Homo sapiens: one gene and its partner. The protein of the gene in region 1 interacts with the protein of each later gene in a pairwise test. Each region holds a gene or a part of one and is shown on either strand. Other genes may lie near its edges.

Region 1 (3,820 bases):
AGATGTCAATGGCAAAAGTGCTTTGTAGAAAATTCGAGTAAGGGCAGGGAGACGAGTGTGCTTGGGGGACGTGGTTCTTTCATATAGGATGGTTGTAGAAGGGCATGCTGATGAAGTGGCACCTCAGCAGACCCTGATGGAAGAGGTGGCGAGGACGGCCATGCAGATATTCAGGGCAGGAGCTTCTCAGTGGAGAGTCCCTGAGCTGGGGGCGCACGTGGTGTGCTGGCAGAACAGCACAGATGGGAGTGAGCAGGAGGGAGTGGATGCAGAGGAGGTCAGAGAGGCAGGGGAAGAGAGCGTGGGCCATAAACAGACATGGGCTTTTATTCTAATCAGATGGGAAGCCATTTGGGAGGTGTTTTTTGGGTTTTTTTTAAGACAGATTCTCACTCTGTCACCCAGGCTGGAGTGCAGTGGTAAGATCTCAGCTCACTGCAGCCTCTGCCTCCCAGGTTCAAGCAATTCTCCTGCCTCAGCCTCCTGAGTAGCTGGGATTACAGGTGCCTGCCACCATGCCCAGCTAATTTTTGTATTTTTAGTAGAGATGGGGTTTCACCATGTTGGCCAGGCTGGTCTTGAACTCCTGATCTCACATGACCCACCTGCCCGGCCTTCCAAAGTGCTGGGATTATGGGCGTGAGCCACCGTGCCCAGCCATTTGGGAGGTTTAAGCAGAGGTGTGATGTGACTGCTTCACATTTTCAAAGGATCACTCTGGCTGCTGTGTTGAGATAGACTGTATGGGTGGGGGGACAAGGATGAAGACAATGAGACCCACCAGGAGGCCATGGCAAAAATCAGATGAAAGACCATGGTGCCTGGGACCAGACGATGGCGATGGGAGTGGAGGTGGTGAGGAGTGGCCAGGTTGTGGATATATTCTGAAGAAAAATCAGGGTATTTACTAATAGATTGGAAGTAGGGTGTGAGAAAGAGAGGAGACAAGTATGACTCCAAGGCTTTGGCCTGAGCACTTGAAAGGATGGAACCATCCGTCATCAACGGAGATGAGGACAACTTCAGGTAGAACAGGTCTCAGGCAGGCGATCCGCAGTTCACTTTGGACATGTTAAATCTAAGATTTACTGACATCCAAATGAATTAATAGGTAGGAATGTGAATCTGGCATTCCAGAAAGAAAGCTGGGCAACATATAGAAAGGGAGCAGGGGAGAGAAAGCATCTATTTGGGAGGTGAGAGCATACAGATTGCTTTTAATAATGTGAGACTAGCTGGGCGTGGTGGCTCACGCCTGTAACCTCAGCACTTTGGGAGGCCCAGGCAGGTGGATCACCTGAGGTCAGGAGTTCGAGACCAGCCTGGCCAACATGGTGAAACCCCGTCTCCCCTAAAAATACAAAAAATTAGGTGGGCATGGTGGCAGATGCCTGTAATCCCACCTACTAGGGCAGCTGAGGCAGGAGAATCACTTGAACCCTGGAGGCAGAGGTTGCAGTGAGCCAAGATCACGTCACTGCACTCCAGTCTGGGCAACAGAGCGGGACTCTGTCTCAAAAAAAATAAATAAATAAATAAATAATAAAGACTGTGAGACGGGATGCAGTCATGAGGGAGGAGAGTAAATAAAGAGCAAAAGGCCAAGACAGAGGTCTGGCCCACTCCATGCATTAGAAAGCTGGCCAAAGGAGGCAAAATTGGCAAACAATGAGACACAGCAGCTGGTGAGGTAGGAAAAGACTCAGCAGAGAGAGGTGTCCCAGAAGCCACGGCAAGGGGTTTCACGGAGAGAGTGGTCACCTACACACAATGCTGCTGACAGGACAGGGAGGATGAAGACTGAGAAGCAACCACTGGCTGTAACACCACGGACATCATTAGTGAGCAAAGGCCTGATCAGAGTGCGTTCCAGAGAGAAAGATCCAGTTACCAATCAACTGGAATACTGAGAATAGAGGAACATGTTAAATGAGACCACAGGGGACGTAATCAGTGGAATCCAGACAGCGAGATGCAAAACAGGACAGGTGGCCCAATTCCTTCCAGATAAACTGAAAGGAAAAATAATAGATGGAAGAGATGCCCGCAGATTAAAAAAGACTTAAGAGACATCTCAAACATAATGTGTGGACATTACTTGAATCCTAATTCAAACTAAAAAAATGTTTTTAAAAATTGAAACAACTGAAAATCTAATCACTGGCTAGACAGTGATCTAGGCTGAAGCTTTTACTATGGTGGTGGTGGTAATAACATTGAGATTATCACTTAAAAAAAAAAGAGTCTTTACCTTTTGAGCTAATACTGACATATTTGCAAAGGAAATGACTAATGTCTGGGGTTTGCTTCAAAATAAAATGGGAGTGGGGAAGTGGGCAGGGATTTAGGTGAAACAAGACTGGCCAAGAGTTAGCAGCTAATGCAGCTGGAATTTGGATACATGGGGACCCATTATACTATTCTGTCTATTTTTATTTGAATATTCTATAATAAAGAGAAGGGGAAAAGGGAGGGAAGGAGAGAAAATGGGGAAGAAAGAATTGGAGACAACAAGTATAGACAACTCTTTCAAGGGGTTCTGCTCTAAAGAGGAGTGGAGAAATGAGGCACCAATGCAGGTAGATGCAGGGCCCAGGGAGGTTTTCTGTTAAAGACGGACAGCAGGACAGAACAGTCACATGCTGGTGGGAATAGCCCAGCAGAGGGGGGAGAGCTGATGACTCAGAGGAGAAAGGAGAGAGACGCTGGGGGTGACCTCCTGGGGTGGGCAGGGGACATCAAGCCACAGGAACAAGGGAAAGCAGAGTCTGTGGCCACCGAGCAGCAGATGGAAGAACAAGCTGGCTGCATGTGGACGCCTCTTCTGGGTGACTCCGTTCTCTCAGTGAACTGAAAAGCAGCATTGAGGATCCGGGAGGAAAGCAGGAGAGGGAACGGAGTAAGATACGGAGTGTGCATTCTGAACTTTAAGAAGGGCCCCCCTGAGATAAGTGACTACGACTTGAAAGCAACTCCAGGCAGCCTGGTTTGAGGTGCGACTCCAGCCACATTCCGGTGAGCATATACCAAGACAGCCAATGACACATGATCGCTGGTAGGTGTCAAGTGGGAAAACCAAGGAGTGAAGAGCTGCAAGAACTTGCAGACAACCAGACAACTCAGAGGGGTCTAGGAACAGCGAGAGCAAAGGCTCCCAGACAGAAATGCAGACTGTGGGGAATGAATGGAGTGAGCCTTGCTGGGGTAGAACGTCCAAGACCAGGTTGTTTCAGTGGAGACAGGCTTTAAGAAGACACTGAAATTGGATAACGGGGAGCCAGAGAAGTTTATGAGAAGGGCTGACAAAATGAAATCAAGAATTTTATGCACCTGTGCTGTTCCTCACCTCTATCCCTGCCCCAGGGACCACCACATACCTTGGGGGCCTCCCCCTTGCTGCCCGGGGGCAGCCGCAGGACCCAGAAGTTCCTGTTGCGCAGCAAGTTCTCCAAGTTCTCCAGCCGCCTCTGCAGCAGCCCGTACTCCTGCAGCAGGGTCCCCAGCACGGCCCACTTGCTCTCCATGTGGTTCCCAAATTCCACGGCCGTCTTTTCACAGTCGGCCAGCTTCTTCTCGGCTGTCCCCGTGCGCCCCTCCAGGTTCAGCAGCTGGCTGGCCTGGGCATCCACCTTCCTCTCCACAGCCTGAATGGCAGCCACCACAGTCCAGAGTGAGATCTCTGCTGTGGGCAACTGGGGCTCTCGCATCATGCGGTCGGGGAAGACAGGTGCCCTATCTGGAAAGGGTGGGAACTGAAAAGGCATTGGCCGCCGGGCGTCCATGTCCCATTCTTGAGCCTGTATGCAGAGGGAGAAAGCGA
Region 2 (3,820 bases), on another chromosome or scaffold:
TTAACCTAATTTGCGCTGCCTATTTTGGTTAAGAAACAGGGAAACACCCTAAAATCTGTGATAATTTTCAAAATACAATTTTAAGAAGCTTTGCGCTTACATAAATCACAAGAAATACAGCTGGAAATCATTTCACTTTTCTTGCTGTAAATTTTTTTAGTGGGTTTGTGACAGTATAAATTTTCTTGCTAGATGCTAATGATACATTGTATTATCTGTATTAGGAATTAAATATTTAATAGGAATAGTGAATAAATTGATCTGCTCTCATGCTGTTATCTAAGATCTTATGCTACCATTACATTCCTTTCTGTAGTCGTATCTCATATTTGAAAGGTCTCATGTTGTAAATATTTGACTTGCTGTAAAATTATACAAGATAAAAAATGTAGAGTTTTATTTTTCTTCATCTAGAATGCACAGAATAACTGCGTAAGGAATGGGTGCATAGGGCTTCTTTTCCTTTTAAATTTGTACTGCTAAATACACCAAGGAAATTGACATCAAAACCAAATTCAAGGACTTCCACAGACATTTCAGGTCAATTTTAGTTCCAAACCGAAGAAATCTTTTAAAAGTTCTTATATAGCCCAGTTTTCTTTTCTTGATGAAATGTTAACTAGACACCTGGTTAGTCAGCTTTTATTTTGACCCCACAGTTTTTTTTTTGAGACGGATTCTCACTCTGTTGCCCAGGTTGGAGTGCAATGGTGTGATCTCGGCTTACTGCAACCTACGCCTCCTGGGTTCAAGCGATTCTCCTGCCTCACCTTCCTGAGTAGCTGAGATTACAGGCGCCTGCCACCACGCCCCGCTAATTTTTGCATTTTTAGTAGGGACAGGGTTTCACCATGCTGGCCAGGCTGGTCTCGAACTCCCGACCTCAGGTGATCCGCCTGCCTCGGCCTCCCAAAGTGCTGGGATTACAGGGGTGAGCCACCGTGCCCGGGCCCCACACTTTGTTTTTATGTTAGGGCAGTTGGAGGAACTGAACTTTGATCCTGATCCTTTATATACTCCCATGGTGAAACTTGAGCCCATTTTACTTAACACAATATATCCGTGCATTAGGAAAACTTGGTAGAGAAGATTATATGCAGATATAAAATATCTAAACTCATTTGTTATGAACCAACGATAATGAGGGAAAACTTGGACATCCACATACAGATTTTCTTGAATTAAAGAAAAAAACCAGACACTGACAAAGGAGAGCTGAACTGATAAATGGTACCCTGAAAACTGCAGAAATGAGGGAAAGAGGCAGTGGGCCACAAAGAACTTTGTCCTTTTCAGAGATCCCCAGAGAAGCCCTGCCCCCTTCCCCCCACCCCCTGACAGAATGTTGTGTTTCAAAGAATGAGCAGATTAATGGATATCAAGTTGTGTGGCCTGAGCTGAGGATAAAGAATAATTTGCCTGAGGAGTTACAGTACTGGCTGGATCACTACAGGCCTTCTACTTGGAATATCTTCCCATGAAAGTAAAAGGAATATAACTAAGGAAGATTAAAGTTGTTGCTGTTGGAAGGAAGACATACTAAAGAAACTGCCGAAGGCCAGGAGAGAAGCAGGAAGAGAAACACGGCTTGAAGTTCTGTAAGAATCAGAGTTGGGCAAGAACTGCCAATAAGGGAGCCAGCGTAGATCTGAGTACTAAACACCTGAGCCTCCGAGGGTTTGTGTGCGAGGGAGAGCTCTGCTGATGGACATAGGCCCAGAATCATTAACTGATTTATTTGGGCCATGTCACTGGTGGCATTATTAAAAGACTCTGCCAACATCCTGCTTTATGGAAAAACCAAGTGGCCTTGGAAGAGGCTAAGATAAAGTTTCAAACTTGGGCTCCACAGAAGTGGAACTTAAGGCTGGGGCTAGTACCAGGACCTTCATGTATCAGGTTAGAGATTTTGATGCTTTTGGTGATTTTTGTGCCAAGCATGTACTGTCACCTGGGATCAATCTATTACTCTTTCTATGAAATAATTATTCCAAAGAGGCTGACAGTCCAGGGAGGAGATAGCCCAGTGGAAGGACTGTCCTACTTGTTACTTATGCAAGGCCAGAAGCACCTGGTTCATCTGAAGGTGAAGAGAAACCATTTTGTGAATAACTTTCCAGTCTACAGTTACCACAATGGCCTCCTGGGGCAAGAATCGCCTTTCATCTCACATGACTGCCACTATGAAGGCTACATAGAAGGAGTGTCAGGTTCTTTTGTTTCTGTCAACATCTGTGCAGGTCTCAGGGGCACATCCTCCTGATTAAGGAGGAAAAATCTTACAGCATTGAGCCCATGGACTCTTCAAGACGGTTTGAACATGTGTTATACACCATGGCACATCAAGCGTGAGTCTCCTGTGGTGTCTACTAGCTGGCAACAAGGGAGCAGGAAGCCTCATGATCTACAGGCACTGTCCTACTTGTGGTCACACAAAAAGTACGTGGAGATGTTTGTCGTGGTCAACAACCAGCGGTTCCAGATGTGGGGCAGTAACGTCAATGAGACGGTCCAGACAGTAGTGGATGTCATTGCTCTGGCCAACAGCTTCACTAGGGGAATAAACACAGAGGTGGTGCTGGCTGGAATGGAGATTTGGACCGAGGGGGACCTAATAGATGTCACAGTGGACTTGCAAATCACACTCAGGAATTTCAATCACTGGAGACAAGAGATGCTCTTCCATCGTGCAAAACACGATGTTGCCCACATGATCGTTGGGCATCACCCTGGACAGAATATGGGCCAGGCCTTTCTCAGTGGTGCCTGCTCAAGCGGTTTTGCGGCAGCTGTTGAATCCTTCCATCATGAAGATGTGCTGTTGTTTGCAGCCCTGATGGCCCATGAGCTCGGGCACAACCTGGGTATTCAGCACGACCACTCGGCCTGCTTTTGTAAAGATAAGCACTTTTGCCTCATGCATGAAAATATCACAAAAGAAAGTGGCTTCAGCAGCTGCAGCTCTGACTACTTCTACCAGTTCCTTCGAGAACACAAAGGGGCCTGCCTATTTAACAAGCCACGGCCCAGGGGCCGCAAGCGTAGGGATTCTGCCTGTGGAAATGGTGTGGTGGAGGACACGGAGCAGTGTGACTGTGGTTCTCTATGTCAGCATCATGCATGCTGTGATGAAAACTGTATACTGAAGGCGAAAGCAGAGTGCAGTGATGGTCCATGTTGTCATAAGTGTAAATTTCACCGTAAGGGATATCCTTGCTGTCCTTCTAGTCGTTCCTGTGATCTCCCAGAATTTTGCAATGGTACATCTGCATTATGCCCCAACAACAGGCATAAGCAAGATGGCTCAAAATGTCATACAATTTACGAGTGCCTTAAAGTTCATTGTATGGACCCTAATAATCAGTGCTTACAATTATATGGATATGGTGCAAAATCAGCCTCACAAGAGTGTTACAATTCAATGAACAGCAAAGGGGACCAATTTGGAAACTGTGGCATTTCTACCAGTCCTGGGTCACAATATGTTCGGTGTTCAGATGGTAATATATTTTGTGGGAAACTTATATGTTCAGGTATTACAGGCTTACCAAAAATCAATCTCCAACATACAATGATTCAGGTCCCTCAGGGAGATGGCTCATGTTGGAGCATGGATGCCTATATGAGTACTGACATTCCTGATGAAGGAGATGTGCACAATGGCACTTACTGTGCACCAAACAAAGTCTGCCTGAATTCCGCCTGCACAGATAAAACCCCAGTGATTTCTGCCTGCAACCCAGAAAAAACGTGTAATGGGAAGGGAGTTTGTAATGATTTAGGGCACTGCCACTGTAATGAAGGGCATGCCCCCCCTGAC

Evidence for each region.
Region 2: the proteins of ZNF282 (region 1) and MAPKAPK5 interact in a two-hybrid assay, tested with the Homo sapiens proteins (one large-scale study listed by BioGRID and IntAct).

The regions. Positions count from the first base shown.
Region 1 is NC_000007.14:149,198,310-149,202,129, reverse strand, and holds part of ZNF282 (zinc finger protein 282), read right to left. Parts: intron 3,798-3,820; coding exon 3,378-3,797; intron 1-3,377.
Region 2 is NC_000012.12:111,897,518-111,901,337, forward strand, and holds part of MAPKAPK5 (MAP kinase-activated protein kinase 5), read left to right. Parts: 3' UTR 1-3,820. UniProt on the Homo sapiens protein: Tumor suppressor serine/threonine-protein kinase involved in mTORC1 signaling and post-transcriptional regulation. Phosphorylates FOXO3, ERK3/MAPK6, ERK4/MAPK4, HSP27/HSPB1, p53/TP53 and RHEB.